Regions from separate parts of the Homo sapiens genome. Here region 1 is linked to region 2. A link means that fine-mapping ties the variant in region 2 to the plasma level of a protein whose gene starts in the linked region. Region 2 holds a variant in brackets. A gene starts in the other region. All regions are shown on their forward strands.

Evidence for each region. A credible set is the group of variants that fine-mapping cannot tell apart. PIP is the posterior inclusion probability: the model's chance that the variant is causal. The UK Biobank Pharma Proteomics Project read protein levels with antibody pairs (Olink). The fine-mapping took linkage between variants from a reference panel, not from the people measured, so its PIPs are less certain.
Region 1: it holds the start of CST5, and the variant in region 2 is the best candidate, but not a certain one, in a credible set for the plasma level of the CST5 protein (UK Biobank, PIP 0.52).

What each region holds. Positions count from the first base shown.
Region 1 is chr20:23,874,898-23,884,970 of GRCh38, forward strand. CST5 (cystatin D) reads right to left here and starts at 4,851. Exons shown (of 3, transcript NM_001900.5): 1 at 4,549-4,851; 2 at 2,608-2,721; 3 at 1,037-1,374. The coding sequence starts at 4,779. The coding sequence ends at 1,291. RefSeq lists an enhancer at 4,344-5,173.
Region 2 is chr15:63,341,242-63,351,314 of GRCh38, forward strand. CA12 (carbonic anhydrase 12) reads right to left here. Exons shown (of 11, transcript NM_001218.5): 3 at 5,289-5,468; 4 at 4,236-4,378; 5 at 761-856. LOC124903506 (a long non-coding RNA gene) reads left to right here. Exons shown (of 3, transcript XR_007064676.1): 2 at 573-680; 3 at 2,897-3,169. Among named protein-coding and RNA genes, the nearest start is that of CA12, 36 kb to the right of the region's middle. RefSeq lists a silencer at 4,169-4,356, an enhancer at 5,112-5,281 and a cis regulatory region at 5,197. The variant T/G (reference allele first, on the strand shown) is at 6,204.

The DNA.
Region 1 (10,073 bases), not on the chromosome of region 2:
TGGCTGCCTGGGCGCTGCTACACTTCCCACATCACAGACTCAGTTAAATCCCATGGGGGTGGAGAGGAAATGGAAGCAGATGCTGCTCACTCTCCCTGCCAGACCATTCTCCTCCTGGCTTCCTAGGTGCAGCACGGTGGGTGCTGGCCTCAGGGCTGTTTCAGCAGCTTCCTCTTTGTCATTTCCCTCTCAGTGTTCATGGCAGCCACCCTTGGTCAATGCAGCTCTGAGTGAGGAAGACATTTCAGAGCCTTGGGCCAGAGGCACCTGTCCTGAGGGCTGCACCCCCTTCTCTTTGAACTAAAATAGCAAAGAGAAGGACCGTGTGGGCTTGGGGCCATGTGACTTAGGAGTGTAGCCTCCTGCTTGAGGCACAAATATCTACTATTCTATGAATCATGATGACACTAAGTTTTTTTTATTAATTGGAACATCATCCTTGGAAAAAAACAGTCCACTTCATGCCAGTCCCATTTGTGTTTTAACTTCTCTAACCCTAATATAAAGTTTGACATGAGGACTTTTTAAAACTTCAAGTCCAGAGAATGGGCCGGTGGGTGTGAATTGACAAAACCTCCCACCCTGGGGCACACCTTCCCAGGATAGATGACAGCAGGCACTGTTTTCTCTGTGAGATCTTGCCCATCTTTGGTCTGGCTGGCATTTCTCCCAATCAGTTACACATACACATACACACTTTTGGACTTGTTTCCATGTAAGGGCCTAAAGTCTCTTGTGGAAAGAAGCAGACATCGATCGCTATTTATTTAGTGTCTAGGGGATTTGATGAGAGCAGCTCAGTCCCTGGAGTCTGCTCAACTCTGCAAGCACAGATGGAATCCACGGCCTGGCGAGCTCCACTGAGGCCTGGCCCCTGCCTGTGGACACAGCCAGCCCCCTCCTCCTGGTCTGACCAGGAGCTCAGACCAAACCAGCAGCCCAACTTCTGGGGCCAGCAGAACAAGGAGGCTTCATAAAGGAACTGCAGAAACCCTGCCTGTGTGTACATCCCCAAACAGCCAAGAACTCAGAGGGAGGCAATGCTACTGTTTAATTGCAGGAGGTGGGAGAGTGTGCACTGCACACTGGGGCTATGAGAAGCAAGAAGGAAGGAGCAAGGGCAGAGCCTCCTGCTGAGCAACAAAGGCCTCCTGCCACCTTCTGTGTCTGTCTCCTGGTGCAGGCGCATGAGGAGACCTCCCCCAGGGTGGGGGCCACCAGTCCAGGGGTGGGAGCACTACAGGGGGTGGGAGTAGGAGGTGGTCAGTGTGACAGGCCTTGCACAGACCCCTAGACTTTCCGGCACTTGTAGTTCAGAATGGAAATTTTATCCTCCCAGGGAACTTCATTGATCTGGAAAGAGCAGAACTCTTCCTGTGAAAAGAAAGAGATGGAGAAAATGACTGTGGGTTACAGTTAAAGCCAAAGATGCCCAGGAATGGGACATCAGAATGGGGGTGAAAATGGTTGGAGATGAGACACTGCCCCCTGACCCCAACCTACCCCTGCCGAGTTCCAGGGCACTGAGCCCAACTGGGCAGTGACTGTTCCATTGCCCCTCCCAAGGCTCCAAGTCACCAGGTGACATTGGGCCTTCACCCCAGCCTGCAGGATTCCTGTCCCAGCGCAGCCCTATGAGGAGCAGCCTGTGCAAGGCCTTGGGAGCCTCAGGGGTGCAGGACAGGGGAGGCAGCTCACTGCCTCCAGCTCCTTCCACCTCCAGCACCCAGGCCAGCACTAAGAGGGGCCAGAGGGAAGAACCCAGGGAACTGGAAATTGCAACTCAAAGTGCCCGAGGTGGTGAGGAGATGACAAGGAGAGTGTGGCTCTGCCTTGAGCAGAGACCTCGAAAGAAATCCTGGGTTCTTGGAGAGGCTGATGTTGGGTGAGCTGGGGCAGGTCCAGGGCTTCTCAGCTAACAGGCATTTAATTCCTTCTAATGTGCTCAGAGTGGCTGTGGCTGCAGGCAGGTGCCTGAGGCTGGGGTTAGACAGAGCCCCTTCTTTCTGACCAGAACCCAGCCCAGCAGCTTCTTCCTCCAGTCCAACAGACAACACCCCAAAGCAGGCAGAGTTGACCTCCCAGTAACCATTACCAAGCTAAAGTCTTCCTAGCAAAACAAATTCATCACCCCTATCCACACCACTCCATCTGCACACACATAGGCATCTATATTAACTCACAGCAACCCTCACCCAAACGAATATATGCATGAACCCACATACTCCTTCACACATCCACACACATGCACACACACACTCCTGTGCATCTTCCTCATGTATGCACACATATGCATCTTTCTACATGCATAGCCACATGTGTACACCATCCCACACATTCATTCATGCATACACAAAACTCCATATGCACAAACACATTCATTGACTTCACAATACACATCTGCACATGTGTGCCAAACACACATGCATCCTCCCATGCACATGAATACATCCTTGCATACGTGGCCCCACAAATATCTGCACACATGCACACATGCCCTCCAAAGCATGTGCAGGAGTACAGATGCGTGCACACACACATACACACACACACATGCACACACTGCTCTGCGGTACTTGATGCCCCTGACCCACATCAGGCACATACCTCTTTCAGTTTTGGCTGGTCATTGAAGGGACAGTTGTCCAAGTTGGGCTGGGACTTGGTGCATGTGGTTCGACCGAACTTCACATTGAAGTAGTAGTTCACCCCACCCACGATCTACACGCGTGGAAGAGCAGGAAGCAGGGGCAGCATGCTGTCAGTTTCATGCACACGCAGGCACTTCACTGTGACTGAGTCACTGGGCTTGCCTGGGGCTTCATGCCCACACTGTCACCCAAAAGGCACACAAGCCACCTTCTCCTGCTGGCTGGCAGTGGTAGTGTGTCCCAGTCCTTCCTAGTAACTTGTTTTCTCTGGGTATCTCAAGCAAGCTGTCTCATGCAGCCCAGTAGAAAGAGAAGCAGGGGCAGGGCAGATGGAAGCCAGGGCCTAAAACCCCCTTCACTGGATTCAGGAACAGAAGGCACAGCTCTGGGGAACCAGCCAGGGTGGGACAAAGAAACAGTCCTGGCACCAGGCTTGCAGGGCAGGGTCTAAGCACCAAGTGAATGCTCTTTCCCACAGCAAAGGATTAACTGAATTCTGCTACCTGTGCTCAGGGGGCAGGGACACTGGTCCCATCCTAGGAAGGCTGCCACCTGATGATGAAATTTCAGCTAACTTCCAGCTCCTGGCATTCAGTCCACAGAGCATCTCATTCCTGCCATTTAACCCAGAGGTATTTTTCCTCATTTCTCAGTAGGAGATGAGATGCTCACATACATTGATGTTTTAGGCCAATAAACATTGCCTCCTGCATGCCTCCATTCCAGGTGTGATTTTCAAGGCAATATTTCTAAAGTGAGTCACACACCTGCATGTCTTAGGGTTGCAACTTCAGAAGAGAACTGAATGCTTTCCCTGCACAGTGCCGCCCCAAAACATGACTTGTCAGAACTGTGGAGAAGCATGGGATGAGGGACCCTGGGACCAGGGTGCTAGACCTTGCCCTGTGGAACCACACACAAGTCCTGTAGAACCACATGGAAGTCCTGTGATCCCTCCGGTGTCAGTCTGCTGCTCTGTAAAATAGGCTCCAGGGCCCAACGATCTACATCATTCTGTGCTTCACTCCCAGTGAGTGACACACTTAAGAGGGAGTGCAGGCCAGCAGGGACCACAGCACCAGGGAATGCCCCTCCTGTGCAGGGAGAGGGCTGCAGGAGGAGAAACAGGGCTGGTCTGGACTCCTCTGACTTTCCAAGAGAAGGTGGAGGAGCTCTAAAGGCTGGCAGGCCATATAGCCCTGTGGTCGCTGTGTCACTGCTGCTCTGCCATGGGACGTAGGTCAAGCTGGGCTCGGTAGCCCTGCTGAAGCTTCCTCCCTCTGGACCCAACCACCTCCTTCACTCTGCTGGGTGATTGCTGTCCTCATTTTGCTGAGGTCTAACTCTGCGTTAGCTGGCAGAGGCAGGGTCAGGCATGCTCTACCCCAGCAGGAACTCAGCTGTCCTGGGCTGTAGGGGGTGGTCAGCCAGCCTGAGAGTGAAGGCCACTAGCCATAACGGGCTGTGCCCAGGGGCGTGACTTGGGAGGGAAGCGGGGCTATCCAGGACAAGGAGTCAGGTTCCCGTGTGGCCCCTGTGGAGAGGACTCAGGGAGGAAGATGAACCTCGTGGCCTGGATCTCATCCTGAGCAGCATCAAGCCCACCCAGAGTCAGCACAGTCTCCATCCACACCTGCTGGACCCTGGGAAATGCCACAGTCATGGTACAGACACAGTGGCTGCTGCAGGTTAAAAGAGGCCGAGGGGACAGGACAGGGCTGAACTCATGCACTCACGGCCAAGGAGTGTCCTAGGGCATGAAGACCATCAGCAGACAGTCAGAGAAAGCTGAATGAGTCTGCGGTTTAGATAATGTTGATTTGCTGGGAGTGCTCTGGGGGGTGAGGCAAAAAACCCAGCTGGGACTCAGGACCCCCAGGGTGGTGGTAGCACGCACCTGCTGGTAGGCAGCCATCACCTGCAGAGGGCGGCTGTAGTACTCATCCTTATTAATGACCTTGTTGTACTCGCTGATGGCAAAGTCCAGGGCACACTGCACACTCTTGTCATTGAGGTCTGTGGCATGGATGCCACCTGCCAAGGTCCTAGATTGGGCCGAGGCACTCCCGGCCACGGCCACCATCAAGGCAGTCAGCAGCAGCAGTGGGGTGTGCATGGGCCACATCATGTTCTACTGGGACACAGAGCAAGGAGCTGGATCTCCCAGAGAGCAAAGCAGCAGAAGGCTGAGGCAGGAAGCCCAGGCCAGAAGCTAGCTGTGCATTTATCCTACTTGGGTGTCCCCCAACCCCACCTGCTCCCTGGCCCCGCCCCTGGCTCCTCCTCCTCTTTCTACCCCTCCTCTTCTGTCTCTATCTCCCTTTCCACCCCCAACCACCTCCCTCCCTCCCTAAGTTCCCTTCGCTCCTCCCATGCCTCCTCCTCATCCTCCTCCCCACTCCTGTCCTGACCGCAACCTCCCCACAGCCCTGCCCCTCTTCCTCAGTGCTCTAAAGCTTGGCTCACTCTGGATTCCAGAGAGGTGACACCGCTCCCTGGGCTGTGAAACCTGGTGACCACCTATGTCCACAGGAAAGGGAGAAATACAGGGCTTGGCCTTCTAAAGTCTTCAGATGTCAGGGGCATCCAGGAGCACGTGGTCATGGTCTGGGAATTCCTGGGGCAGGGAGCTGTTTCAGAAGCTCCGGGATGACCTTGTCCATGCCCTCTTCTGGGGAACTTCTTTGCCAAACATAAAGTAATTAACCTTTGGGTAAAGTTCACTGGGTTCTCGTTTCATAACTCCTCATTATTCAATAAACAAACCTGTCACCAGCTTCCCCCTGCACCAAGCAGTCTGGGCAATAGAGCCGTAGACATGAACTTGCAGAGCTGCCATCCAACAGAGATGTGACAGAAACCCAGGAGCAATTTAAAACACATTTGAAAAAGTTAAAAGATACAGCTGAAAGTAATTTTGGTATTTCTACTTTAACCTAATATATCCAAAATACTTCAACACTTCAGGACTATTCTTAAGGAGCTAGTTTACATTCTTTTGTGTGAGTGTAATGTCTTGAAGTTCCCTGTGTATTTTTTACAGTTAGACCAAGCGTCACTGTGGACTAGCCCCATTTCAAGTGCCCTGTGGCCACGAGTGGCTGCTGGTGGCTGTGGTACTGCATAGCCCAGCCATTAGGGTGTGTGGGAGGATGCAGAGTGGTGATCAACAATTTAGATCAGGGAATTATAGTCGCTCAGTTAGAGAGAGGGTGGGTGCTACTGGACCCTGGTCAGGGAAGTCTCTAAGAGACCGGAAAGGTTGAGAAGCCCCAGGCAGCAGGGAATAGTCAGTGCAAAGGCCCTGAGGCAAGGCTGGGCATGCCTGCTCCAGGAAGAGGAAGCTCCTGGAGGGGGTGTGAGCAGGGAAGGGAACGACCTGGAGTCTCACGGTAACTGTGGGTGTGTCCAGGTGGAAGGCGCAGGGAGACCCCTGGCAGGTGGTGGGGGTGTCAGGAGAAGGAGCAGCAGCCACAGGATGAATGTGGGAGCCCAAGAGCCTCTCTTGCTCCTCCCCTCTGGGAGACGTGCTGCCAGCACTGGTCCTCTGTACACTGCTTGGAAAACTCATGTAATATTTTAAAAATTACATTGAATGAGGTAGAATTTACACACAATAAAATGCCTAATTGTATGTGCCCAATCTGGGGGATTTCATAAATGCATACACTTGTGTTACCACTTTGTCCACACCTGTGATATCTGCCTCACCCCAGATGGTTTCCTCCTGCCTCTGAAGCCCACCCTCATGCCCACCCGACCCTGGCAGCCCACATCTGGTCCTGTGGACTCCTTTGTTGCCTGTCCTTGAGCTTCCCAGGAATGGAATCCTGCAGAGAGAGCCCAGGTGTGTCTTCGTCCTTTGCTCAGCGTGGCTTCATTGCCAGGATTGAGAGTTCTCCTTCTCCACAGACTGAGAGGATGTGGTCAGTTGGGTGCCCTGTGGGCTGACAAAGCCCCCAGCTCGGGATGCTGTGGGCCTGGACTGGAATGTGACTTCAGGAGTAGGGAGGGTGGAAGGAGGCTCTGAACAGACAGCTGCTCCCTTTGTTCTCTCAACCCCCCCTCCATGCCTGAAGGTGATCCTGCGGCAAATGCCCTTATGGCGAGGTGGCAGGCTTGGCCAGAAACACCAGGAAACCCTGGGCCTTAGCAGGACACCCAGAGGACTCTCCTGGGAGTGGTGGAGGTGAGGGTCGGCCAGGATCAGCCCAGACCTGCTATAATCCTGGGGCTCCGCCATGGCTGGGGCTGCATCAGCAGGAACCCGACAGCGGGAACAATATTACTCATGGGTGCTCATGTTCAGTATGAGGACAGGGGACCTTTTTACCCAAGGCCCAGTGACCATTGCACCCCACTGTGAATCCAGCACCCCTAGAAAAGCCATGCACTCCAGCAGATACAGCAGGTGGCCCAGGGATAGTGTTTACTGCTGGGTGAGGGAGGGAAGGTCTTCAAGCAGGGCTGCACGTGATGCCTCCTAGTTAGACAGGAAATTGGGGGAGATTCCCAGAGAAGGGAAAGAGAGGGCAGTCCCTGGCCAGGTGCTTGTGGGCAGAATGGTCATCTCCCAAGTGTGGGAGTTGGGTCTCCTCTGTGGCTCCCACCTTCCCTGGCCGCTAGGTCTCAACTCTCAGGAGGATGTGTTGTGCAGAGGGTAAGCTGAAATACATACAAATCTCTCCTATCTTTTATCATTAGGAAGGAGATGCAGGTCATCCACATAACAGGCATATGGTGGTGGGTGGAGTATGGGGTGGGAGCTGGAGTGCTGGCCTATTTCCCTGTATGTGATGCCACCGCCAGTGGTCATCCTCTGTCAGGACACTGGAATGAGCTATAGGGAGGGTCAACAGGCCTGATACAGTGGCCACTCTAATCTTTGTAGTCAGACCCCCATGTAGGGCACTCTCAGGAACTACAAGAGATGCATCCAGTATGGGTGATGGTAAGTGGAAGGTTAGGGTAGATGGACAGCTGCTCCAGCTGCTGGGTGACCTTGGGAAAATGTTTTGCCTTCTCTATGTGTCATGCATATGGAAAGGTGAGCTGCTTTGTAAATGGTGGTGTCTGGTGGTTCAAAACCAGCAAGATAAGTTTGATTCTGCAGTGACATTTAAGTGTGGTTAAAATTTACAATAGCCCAGTGTTATGGCATGCCTGTACACCTACTCTTGAGGCTGAGGCAGGAGGATCTCTTGAACCCAGGTGTTCCAGACCACACTGTGCAACACAGTGAGATCCCATCTCAAAAAAAGATGGAGACTTAGTTCCTATAGCTTACAGCTCCAATGACAGGCTGGCAGGGACCCAGAGATAAACAATGGACTCAGGACCAAGCCTGGGGCCTCCAGCACCTTCGTAATCTGGAGGAGTCCAGTTGCCCAGGAGGGGGCATGTTTCCTTTCTGCCAGTGGATGAAAGAGAAAGCCGTGTTCTCCCAGGTTGCGTGTGTAACTTGATCCCATGATTGAATTAGTAGAGTGAGAAATTAGGTGAGTGACAGAAGTTCTCTATAATAAATAAGCAGTAAAGGGAAACACTAAACAATATTATAACCAATAAATACCTAAGGGCATAAACATCACCTAAAGTGCAAGTGGTTAGATCAAGTTGGCCAAGAGTTGAGATTCTGCACATCCGGGTTTTGAGCAATTAACATTCAGTGTCTGTGATAGGAGATGGGACTGAGCAGCCACGGGATTTGTTGGCTTCTCAAAGGGGAAGCCCAGAATCCTCCTTTATGGAGTGCTGCGAGTTCTCTGGGGTCAAGCTTGTCCCTTATGCACACCCTTCCTCCTTCCCCCTCCCTGCTCCCAACTGTGGGGGACCTGAGATACTCCTGGACCATTGGCCACCATTGGTAAGCATCTGGGCTCTGATGGGGATGAGGCCACATTATTATGAACTCTGGTACTTGCTGTGAAGCATGCCCAAAGCCCCTACAGGAAAAGGGCGTACAGAGCCCAGGATCTGAGGTCTGAGAGTTTGGCCCTTTATGGAGGGAAAGAGAATCCTTGGGAAGTTTCCTGCTCAGGGATCAATGTGTAAACAGCACTTAGGATTTTAGATTGCAAGGTTACTATTTATTTTCTCAAGGAGTACATTCTTCCTAGCAGAGCCATGGCTAGAGAACCACAGCCGAGTGGAGAGGACAGGGAGAGTTCCTTGGGAACTCGGGTTGCTTGCTGATGCACCCAGGGACTTCCCCCAACTCCCTGGTCCCAGCCTGCAGGGGCCTGGCCCAGGAGAATACAGATGGCTCTGAGGGGAGAGCAATCCCCTTGGCATCTCTGTGTGGTGAGAGTTTCCTTTCTAATCCCCATTCAGGTCACTGCTGGGACTTCCCTGTCACTGTTTGTCTAACCTTAAATATCAATTCCTTTAGCAGACTGCAGTGGCTGTGGAGAGTGGTTCCTGTTCCTGCCTGGAATCCTGTTACACTCAATCAGTGGGTGCTGGAGCTGGAGCCAGAGGCCATCAGGACAGCCTGCCTGCTCTTGTGGCCCTGCCTGCCCTCTCCTCCTGTCACAGAGGAGCTGGATCCAGTGAAAAGACTCTCTAACGAAACTTTAAGGCTCCTCTGAGCCTTCTTCACTAGGCCTCAACCTTGGTCTCCAGCTCCTACCTGCCAGGTCTGCATTGCTCAGTTTTAGGAAAGAATCCTGCTTCCTTTTAGGGAGAATCCTGCTGTCCTTGGGGTCTGATCACCCTTGACATCTGATCAAGTTCCTCATCCCTCAGCTTTGATGTCTAAGGCTGTGTCCTGCCTTTAGCAAGAATCCTGTTTGGTCAGTTCAGCCAGAAACCCCTACCTTTGATGTCTCTGCTTAGTAATTTTTTCTTCACTAACCTCCACACCCTGCTCCTTGGCTATAAATCCCCACTTACTCTTTTTATATTTGGACTTGAGCTCACTCTGTCTTATTGTGAGAGTGTTGACCCCATTGCAATTGTCTTGAGTTATCTCAACTAAGGCCAGGCTTCCAGCAGTGAAGCTCCTCATCCCCCTGTCCATGACGTCATCACTGGACTTCCTGCAGGCACCACCAGTTCAGCATGTCTATTGCTACAATCATCATTTTGCCCACAGACCTGCCCCTCATGGAGAGCATGAAATGTAGGTTGGATTCGGAAGGAAAGGGCTGCGCTCCACGAGTTGCATGGCAGTTGTAGACACCAGCAGAAACCATGCAGTCTACGGAGGAGGAGATTTCTCCCTCTCTGGACCTCACATGGGATGGACTGTGGGTCTCTGCTGGGAGGGATGTTCAGAGCATCCTGTACACATCAGTTACCTACTGCTGCATCAGAAGCCACCCCGAATCTTCCTGGCTGAAAGCAACATGATGTGTGGATTCTTATGACTCTGGAGCTGTCCGCGGCTCTTCTGCTGGTCTTGTTAGGTTCAGTTGGGGG
Region 2 (10,073 bases):
TCCAGGGTACATATAGAGCAGGGGTGCCCAGCCCCCAGGCTGTGGACCAGTACCGGTCTGTGGCCTGTTAGGAACTGGGCCGCACAGCAGGAGGTGAGCAGCGGGCAAGCAAGCATTACAGCCTGAGCTCCGCCCCCTGTCAAATCAGCAGAGGCCTCCCATTCTCATAGGAGCACAAGCCCTATTGTGAACTGCGCATGCAAGGGATCTAGGCTGTGTATTCCTTACGGAATCTAACTAATGCTTGATGATCTGAGGTGGAACAGTTTCATCCCAAAACCATCTCCCTCCCTGGTCCATGGTCCGTGGAAAAATTGTCTTCTATGAAACTGGTCCCTGGTGCCAAAAAGGTTGGGGACCACTGATCTAGAGGTCCCTTGGATCTAGAGGAGCTTGGATGGCAGGAGTTGTATCAAGAGTTCAGGCATCTGATGGGGCAGATGGAGTTTGATGATCCCTTTCCAGCACAGGTCCTCCCCAACTGGGCAATTCCATGCCTTATGCAACAGGGCTAGATGTTGGGGCCCGTTTTTCCAACGGACCAAAGAACATTCCCCATTTCTGCTGCCCAGGCACAGAAAGTGCTGCCTCCAGGCCAAGAGAGAAGGTGCACTACAGGAGGATACCCCCTGCTCTGGAGTTGACACGGAGTCGATACAGGAACAGCTGATTATCAACAGGTATGCATGGAACAAAAGGTGGAATCCCAATCTCATCCCTGCTTCAAATTTCACCTAAGAACCTTTTAAATATCTCTTACCTCAATGAGAACAGCCAGGACAGCGAGGCCTTCTGACTTGTTGCTGGCAGTGCTGGCGTCAGGATAAAGGTCTGAGTTATAATGGACAATGTGCAGCTGCAGTGGGGGAGAAGCCACCCATTAGGAGATAAGCGACTCATGGGAGCCTGTCGCTTCTGCAGAAGACTTGACTCCAACTGTGAGGACAGAACCCCAGCCCCCTCAGCCCCCCAGACTAGGTTAGGTCTCTCAGACCCTCCCCTTATTTTGCCAAGGATAAGGACATGTGCCCAAGGTGGTCAGGGCATGGCTTGTTTTGATACATTTTAGAGACATAATACATCAATCAATACGTACAAGATACACTGGTTTGATCTGGAAGGGCAGGAAAACTCAAATTGGAGGCTTCCAGGACATAGGTAGATTTAACTTTTTTCTGACTGGCAATCGGTTGAGAGTTATCATCAATAGAAAGGAATGTCTGGGTTCCAATAAGGGGTTGTAGAGACCAAGATTTTATCATGCAGAGGAAGAATACAAGTAGCAGGCTTCAGAGAGAATAGACTGTAAATATTTCTGATCAGACCTAAGGTCTGTGTTGATGTTAATGAATGTGGGCTTTTCCTAAATTCCAAAAGGGAGGAGGGTATAATGGGTCATGTCCAACTCCCTCTTCCCATCATGGCCTGAACTAGTTTTCATGTTAACTTTGGAATGCCCTTGGTCAAGAGGAGAGGTCCATTCAGATGGCAGGTGGGTGGGGTGGGGGGCTTAGAATTTATTTTTGGTTTACACAACCCATGCATTTTTGCTGGTTCTTTGTCCTTGAGACTATGACATATTGAGATTTTAACTCTATTTCTTTTCTCTTTTCATTCATCCTTTTCCATCTCATGTGTTTATAAATACAGTTCAACATATGTTATTGAATACAGCTTAATTTTCCCATTTCGAACTTTAAGTGGCTCCTTCTAACTTAAAAAAAATTATATATCAAATTATTTCTTCTTTTAAGTGGTCCTCTATTAAGGATTTCTTCAGAGCTCCTACTTCACCATCTTCCCCTCAAAGGACTTAGTCTGCCACACTGCCCACACCATCTCGGCCTGGCATCACTTTGAGAAACAGAGCTGAATTCTATATGATTAAAACCCCTGAGGTCCTAAGCCCCTATTTCCTTTTACAGCTGACCTTTGAGCTTGTGGTTTGTCTGTACTTTTCTTATTGTGCTCAGAGGAAGTGAAGACTAATCCAAGCATAAAGGAGCTCCCTGTTGAGGAGATTAAGATAGAAAGAATCTTTTTTTTTTTTTTTTTTTTTAATGGAGTTTCGCTCTTGTTGCCCAGGCTGGAGTGCAATGGCGTGATCTTGGCTCACCGCAACCTCCGCCTCCCAGGTTCAAGCGATTCCCCTGCCTCAGCCTCCCGAGTAGCTAGGATTACAGGCATGTGCCACCAAGCCCGGCTAATTTTGCATTTTTAGTAGAGATGGGGTTTCACCATGTTGGTCAGGCTGGTCTCGAACTCCTGACCTCCGGTGATCCACCCGTCTCAGCCTCCCAAAGTGCTGGGATTATAGGTGTGAGCCAACATGCCCCACCAGAATCTTCTTATATGAACTCCATCCCAAAGAACCACTACACTTCCAAGGTCCTTCCTTAGAGGACCCACTTTAGGGACACCCTGATGCCTTTTCTCTAGTATTGGCATTTATGGTCCATCTTAACCAGACTCTTGGTCTGATGCTGTGACTTAATAGCAGAAAATACAAGAAGTAGAAATATTTTAAAACACATAAACCCTGCCAATCTACACCCTAACCTCCTTTGTGAAAGGAAAATAAATCTCGAGACCCCCAAATCACTAAGCCAAAGAGAAAAGTCAAGCTGGGAGCTGCCTCCCATTCTATTCCTAAATAAGACGGCTACAAAGATAAAAAAGCAACACACCTCACATTTTGCCCACTAGGAAATTCACTGTGGGCCGCAAGGTCTTTACCCTAAAACAGTTCTGTTGAATTTCACCGTGACAATGTAAATGGATAACTTATCTTCATGGGTTCAGGACAAAGGATAGAACTCAAAGTCATCCCTCTGCTCACCTGAGACAAATGCATTTCTAATTGCTTCCTCTGCCCATGTCTGTTTTATTTTGTAAGAATGCAGATTCGCTGAGCTAGATGAATGCACAAGTGACTATTCCTCTACCCCTCTCTCACATGTGAACGGCTGATCAAAAACTCAGAAGAATGCGACCTCTTGCCTCTTACCTCCCCACACCTTTTAAACATTTCTCCCTCTTTCCCCAGTGTCTGCCCTTTCCCCTTTAAATATTGAAGCCCTCAAAATCATCTTTGTAGAAAGGCACAGACTTGTCTCCCTGTCTCCCGGGCATGTGTCCTTAACCTTGGCAAAATAAACTTCTAAATGGATTGAGTCTCAGACACTTTTTGGTTTACACCTTCTTTATTCCCCATGGGGGAAGCAGAAGTCTCAACACTGCAATTAGCCTGGAGGAAATTTCAGTTCTTGAGCTTCAGGGAAGGGCCGCTCTGAAATATGTGAACCTCCAGTGGTACCATCCTATTGAACCAGATCCTATCCCTTCCATGCTTGCAAGTAGACCTATGATTAGTCTGAAACATTAAGCAGTTCAGCAGTTATGACTGGAGGGGAATGGTCTCTATTTACCACGGACTCCCCTGGCTGATCAGTCAGCAGCATTTATCTGCTTGTATTTCCCTGTAAATATTCAGAGCCACACCCCCAGTTCAGGGCTATTGGAGTGCCAAAATGGAGCATCTCAACCCCCTCCTTGCCCCACCCCATCCTGCAATTGCATAGGACAAATGCTCTGCCCGTCTTCTAATTTTCTTTTGGCATTTCGGAGTAGCTTCTCAAGGCAACATGACACGATGCTGTGCTGGCTGACATCTTGTCCCTAGTGAGTCTGCTTGCCGTGATGCCCTGCACATTAGACTGCCAGGTACCCCTAGACTTGTGGCCAGGTAGAAGGGTGGCCCTAGACCCATGTCCCCATGTTCTAAACACAACCCATGCCCAGAGAGGGAAAGATAGCATCAAAATGATGCAAACAGCATGACATATGAAGAAAGGCTGAGAAGTTTGGGGGAGCAGTGAGCCCAGTGTGAGTCAGCAGGAGATTTTTATCTGCACAGATAGGAAGGCAATGTCTAAAAGAAGGGCATGTATGTCCCACTGGGCCACCCTGGGAATACTGCCTCCCCAGCAGCATCACTCAGTAAAAGACACAGGGACAAACTTAGCATGTTCAGGAGAAGAAAGGGACCAGGACAGTGCAGATGAGCTACAGGCTAGTGGAGTGGCTGCGCCCCTTGTGCCAGGGCCAGAGGTGGGGCAGAGAGCCTGAAGGCAGCCTGTCCCATGCTCTGGTGTTATCTGCACAGCAGCCAGGTCGAGAAGGTGCCACACCACCCACTGCAGAGCAGCCTCTGCCAGACTGGCAGCCCTACTTACCTCGGCGGCGAAGTGCTGTCCGCTGACGGTGTGCTCAGAGCCGTGCGGGTCATTCGGGTTCCCCCAGTGCAGGTGCAGCTGCGTGGCACTGTAGCGAGACTGGAGGCCCTGGATGTGCATGTCCGAGGGCAGGTTCAGCTTCACTGCGGGGAGTGGAGGAGCAGCCTTCAGAGCCCCGGCCAGCTGTGCACTGCCAGAGAGCAGTCAGGTAGGCAATGCTCCCTCCACCCCTGCTGCCACCCCCTGGAGCCCAGAGAGAGGCAGGTGGATGGAGTGAGGTGCGGAGCAGAGATGCAGCCTAAAGGTCAGACACCTGGGCTCTTTCCCTGAGAATGTTCCCTTTTCCCCAAAGCAACTCCAGTGGCACCAGCACCTTCTTGGTTCACCTTGGAAAGTGATGCCAGAAACGCTAACACTAGACCAACGGATGGGTGTTTATTTACATATTGATGGATCAGACACCTTTAGTGAAGTACCTTCCAAGCTTTAGAATTATATAGCAACAGCAACGATAACTGCTATTTATGAAGCATTTACTTCACTCTGTATGCCAGACCCCAACGTACATAATCTCCAGTCTTCACGGTATCCATCAATATGTCCATTTCCAGATGGAAGCTCAAGGAGACTAAAATTCTCACCTAGATTCTCATGGCTCGTAAGCAGTCAAGCCAGAGTTCAAATCCAGGTTGGTCTGACTCCAAAGCCTGGGCACCCCCCGCCAAACTGTGTGGTTCCTTGAATCGTTTATGGTCCAGAATTCACTCCAGCTGCACAGCCAATGAACTACAGTGCTCAGGCCGGTCTCCTGCCCCATCCTGAGAGATGTGCTTCTTCTGGGAAGTGCGGCCCTGGCAGGATCCTCAGAGCCCAGAGCCTCCAGCATCCCCTGGAGAGAGTGCTCCTGGAATCTCTCAAAGACACCCCCGCCCCGCCCCACCCCTCCTCCTGGATGCTTCCACGGAACACCTCCCTGCCAGATGGAAAAGGACAGGCCTGGCAGCTGAGGGAGACTCAGACATACCCCTCAGGTCTCCAAGGCCTCTCCCTCACCTGAATGGCCATTGTTGGTCAGGAGAAACTGCTTGTTGGCAGACAGATTGTAGCCTTGGAACTCGAGGGGCGTGAGGCTGGCGTCATACTGGAGGATGTCACTGTGCAGGTCTATGGGGGACTGCAGCAGGCCCCCACACGACGGGTACTTCTTGGACCAGCTATTCTCCCCATCAGGACCTGGACACAGAGATCCATGCTCAAGATTTAGAGTTTCTCACAAAGGGATTTTCCTTATCTTCTAATTCTCTGTTCAATACAATTACTCCTTTTCTCCTCTTTTCTGAATCCCCGGAGGTAAATCTTCAAGGCTCAGAGTCTTGGCCTCCAGAATCAGGTCCAGCAACCACTCAGGACCACCTGCTCTTAAGTGATGTGGGGAAAGAAGGACTAGGGCTGCACAGGCCAGAGCCAGAAGGCCACCGAACTCTGCTTTATTTTGTACATTGTTCCTGTTTGACACACACGTCAAGACCTGTTGACTTTCAGCAATTCAGCATCTGCTTAGCCAGTACCTATTATGAGCCAGGAATTACTCTGGGTCTTGGGGCTGCCAGGTTGAATACAATAGAGCCCCTGCTCATCCAAGCTGGCATTCTAGCGGGGAAGAATTTAGCAAATCTGCGGGGCCACCCCAGGTGGGAAAAATTAGTGTCTTACTGACCACAGTGCCAAGTATTATCTTGGTGCAAAAATAATTGCGGTTTTTGCCATTCCTTTCAGGCAAAAACCACAACTGCTTTTGCACCAACCTAAATAGGTCTTTGTGGCTGCTGGCTTTGCAAGTATGACCTTCCTGAAGAGAAACCCCTGAGGACATTGACTCTTGATACCCACATTTAGAGTAACTATAGAACCCAATCTGATAGGGATGATTGACAAATGTTAAATAATTATAGGCCTGGAATCACAGAG[T/G]GAAGTGCAGAGTTTAAGCTGGAAAAAAATATGACCACACTATAAACTAATTATTACAATATAATTGACACACTATCAGTGAAGAGGAACAGACTTTAAAAAAAGAAATTCCTCCAGGGCTCAAGCTTCTTGCTAACTACCAGATAGCAGTTCCTCCCCTGGAAATGAAAATAAACATGCTATGTGCAGATGAACTTTCCTACTCCCACAGGGAAAAAGTCTTTAAAGAATGTAAATCTATGTTTAAAAGATTATCTCCACGGTAATTAAACAGACTTTCAGGCCAAGGTTTCTCCAGAAAAGCAAAGAATTGGCATGTCATGGCTCGTTAGGGTAGACCCAGGGTGTCCTGTGGGCTCTATCAGAGCTGGGGATCAAGCTTTGCCATCTGGGGGTCCGTTCATCAGTATTTCAACACAAGGAAGGTGGGTAAATAGAGAAAAGGGGAAAGGAACACCACCTCTTCTGGGAATTCTTCTGTAGACCCCTGCACTGTTTCACAAGGGTGTAAATGTTATATTGGCCCCACAGAATCCCAACCCCCTACATCGTGCTCTCTAACTAGGGGACCGTATCTGAGAGTGGGAAGAATCCGAAGTGATACTTGGTACCCAGGTTCATTTCAAATGCTATGAGGCGTTGGTCCCAGGCTTAGTTAGTTCTTACTTCTAGGTCCGGACACACACATCGGAACCCTACTGATTTTTCAGGCTGTCAACCTTAGGCTATGCATTTTCAGAAATGTTACAGCATGACGGAATTGCAGAATCTCCAGTCCAACCTTTCACTGGACACCAGTCTTCTCACTTGGGCATGGCAGAGTCTCCGCTGAGCTCTACTATTCTTATTTTCAAGGCCTCAAAATAACTCAACTACACCAAGATGGTGACTAGGGAAGAGGGAGGCTGGAGGATATCAAAGCAGGCACTCCAGGGCCAAACTGGAGTAAGACAATTATTCAGCTGGGGGCCAAACCGAATGCTTTAGGGGCAGCGGGGAGCAGAATGAAGCAACCGTGAGGCCTCATGTAGAACCCCAGGGTCAGGAAGAGACACAGCACAGGGTAAGACTCCCTAAGTGAGGCTGCCAGCCTTTTCTGTGCTCACAATACTGCCTGGGCCCACAGCCAGCAGGGCGGAAGCTGCCAGCCAGGCATGAATGCAAAAAACTCAGGAAGTAAAGAGATGCATCATTGAGAAGCTTTCTCTTTGCACACATGACTAAAGGGAACTGGATTAGAAGGGTTTTCTTTTCCCACAGTGGAGGTTCAAAAAGGTTTCATCAAGAGGGCATTTTACTGATAGCTAAACGAGAGCCTCGTGAAGATAGGGACCCCTCATCTTCGTCTCTGTGAACCCATATTATAAGTAGGGTCACGTGCCCCCATGGGCATTTAGGAAACATTTTCCCAAAGAGTGAAAAAGAACAGAGGGCTTGGGAAAATGTGACTTGGGGAATGTTTCCTTTTTCTCTTGCTCTAAATACGCTTTATTGGAAGTTAGGACCAAATAAGGTATTTGGGGGGCAGGAAAGACTAAGGATATTAAAGGCAGTAGAGTTGGTGTTGGCAAAACCTGTCTTGGAAAGAGAAGCAGCTATGTTGGACCAGGGGAGTCCAGAGAATGAGATTCCAGCATCAGCTGTCCCAACACTTCAGTGGGTTATGTTCCCTGCTGGAGCCTCCATTGCCCTTCGTGCAAATGGTGGGGGTGGTGGGCGTAGTGGTGGGGATGGGATGTGTGTGGAAGCTATGTTCTGGAAGGTTCCTTCTGGCTCTTAAGCTCTGATATTTATTAAGAATACTAGGACTAAGCACCTTCTCCATCTGTCAGGCAAATTTGAATGAGTCAGAAAGGTTGCTCATGTCAAGGCAGCTACTGGGCATGTGACAAGGTGCCCAGGGGAACCAGCTTCGGGAATGAGGGCACAGGGCACCGGTGCTCCAGGACTGGCTGGGATCAGACAGCCATCTGCATCAGGAACCTGCCCTGGTCCTGGCTGCCATCCACAGCGGAGTTCGTCCTTGGGCACCAGTCACAGGTCTGTAGGTCAGCAAGGTCAAGAAAGCCTTGTCTTCGCCTCCTCCTCCTCCTCCTCATTGTTATTATATTGTAGTAGCTTTGATCCTTATAACTCTATAACCTTACGGGGTAAGCAAGGCAGAATTGCACCATTTTATGGGTGAAAAATAGAGATTTAAGAGATTTGCCGGAAGTTTGACTTTGGCTAAGTAACAGTTACTTTGCTTGGGTCACAGGACTTATGTGTCCTTCAGTATTTATCCAGGAGATTTTGTGCACCTGGAATTTCCTGGCTTCCCCACGCTGTCCTTGAAGACAAGGACCACGGCTCATCCATCGCTGCACTTCCCACAGTGCCTGGCACAGAGTGGGCCCTCACATGTTTACTAAGCTGAACTCTCAACACCTGTTTCATGCTTGTTCCTTTCCCAGGGAACGTGCACCCACCTTAATTCCCTCATGTATTTCTTCTCCTCAAAAAAGAGGAGGAAAAATGAGATCACTTGCTCAGGTTCAAAATGTACCCTCCTAGCTTTCTAGCTTACCTGTGTGCAAATGGTTTCTGTTTGGGGGCACTAATTGAAAAAGAAATCTGATTTCTGCCCTGTAGCCTGGGAGACGGCCTGCCAAGGAAGTTCATAGGGCCCTCCCCCAGCATGTAATGGCTAGTGGGTGTCCCCGCCTTGCATAGCTGGGGACACTGTCAGAGCAGCCTCCTGTCTTTGTGGCATGTGAGAGATAGAGGTGCCATGAGGGTGGGCACCGGGACAACCAATATCAGAGGTGACAACAGCAGGCCTTTCTGTTCCCTGAGCTGTGACATGTGACTGCACAGTGCTGGCCTTATGCTGGCCGCTACACCCTGGGCTACCATTTTCCAACTCAGTGTCAGCTTTCACACTCATGCCAAGTGCTCCACTGCCAGAAATCCTCCACTGGGAGTGACTCTCCTAAAAGAAGCATTTATTTCCAGCTAAAACTTTGCCTTTGCTCTTCTGAGTTTTGACTTCGCCTCTCCAGTTGGTTGGACTCCTCCCATGATCGTGATACAGGAGGATCACGTGTCTTTCACAGTTTGTTTTTCTAAATAAAGCCAAGGCATTATTTCTTTCCTGTCTATGTGTTTTTCCTGCTCTAGGCAAAACAGAAGTGGTCAGAATTCCTGTTTCGAAAGGTAACAAGAGATTAACATGGCACAGCTCAAAATGCCTCTCGTGATTTCTGATTGGGAATTTTGAGGCCCAGGGTGTAGGACCTGCATTATCCAAGGACCAGAATGTTTTTACAGAAAATTTCAAATGTATACAATGTAGAGAGAGGAGTGGAATGAACCCCATGTCACCCAGCTTGGACAGTTTACAATTCAGAAACAGTCCTGCCTCATCTATGCTAAGCCCATTCTCCCCTTATCTACCTGGATAACTGGAAACAAATCCAGATATATTTCATCTGTATATATTTCATATGTTTCTCTAAAACATAAGGGCTCTTAAAACCACAGTACCATGACCACACCTAGAGAGTTAAGAATTAATACCTTAAGATTACCGAATCCAATTAGAATTCAAATTTTTCCAAATAGGTCATAAATTTTTAACAGTTTGTAAATTTCAGGGTTCACATACAGTCCATATATTTTTTGCAATATTGCAATTAGAGGATGTGTTATGGCCTAGATTACAGCTTGATGGTGGAATGCCTCATCAGAGAACACCTGGGCCCCGCTCCTCCAAGGCTCAACATCTCAGAGCCAGCTTGGTCTATCCTTTGCCCTTAGTGGGTCATGGACTCCCATGCTTCCATGGGTTAGGCCCTCGCCATGTCACACTGCAAAGGCTTCCCACAGGCA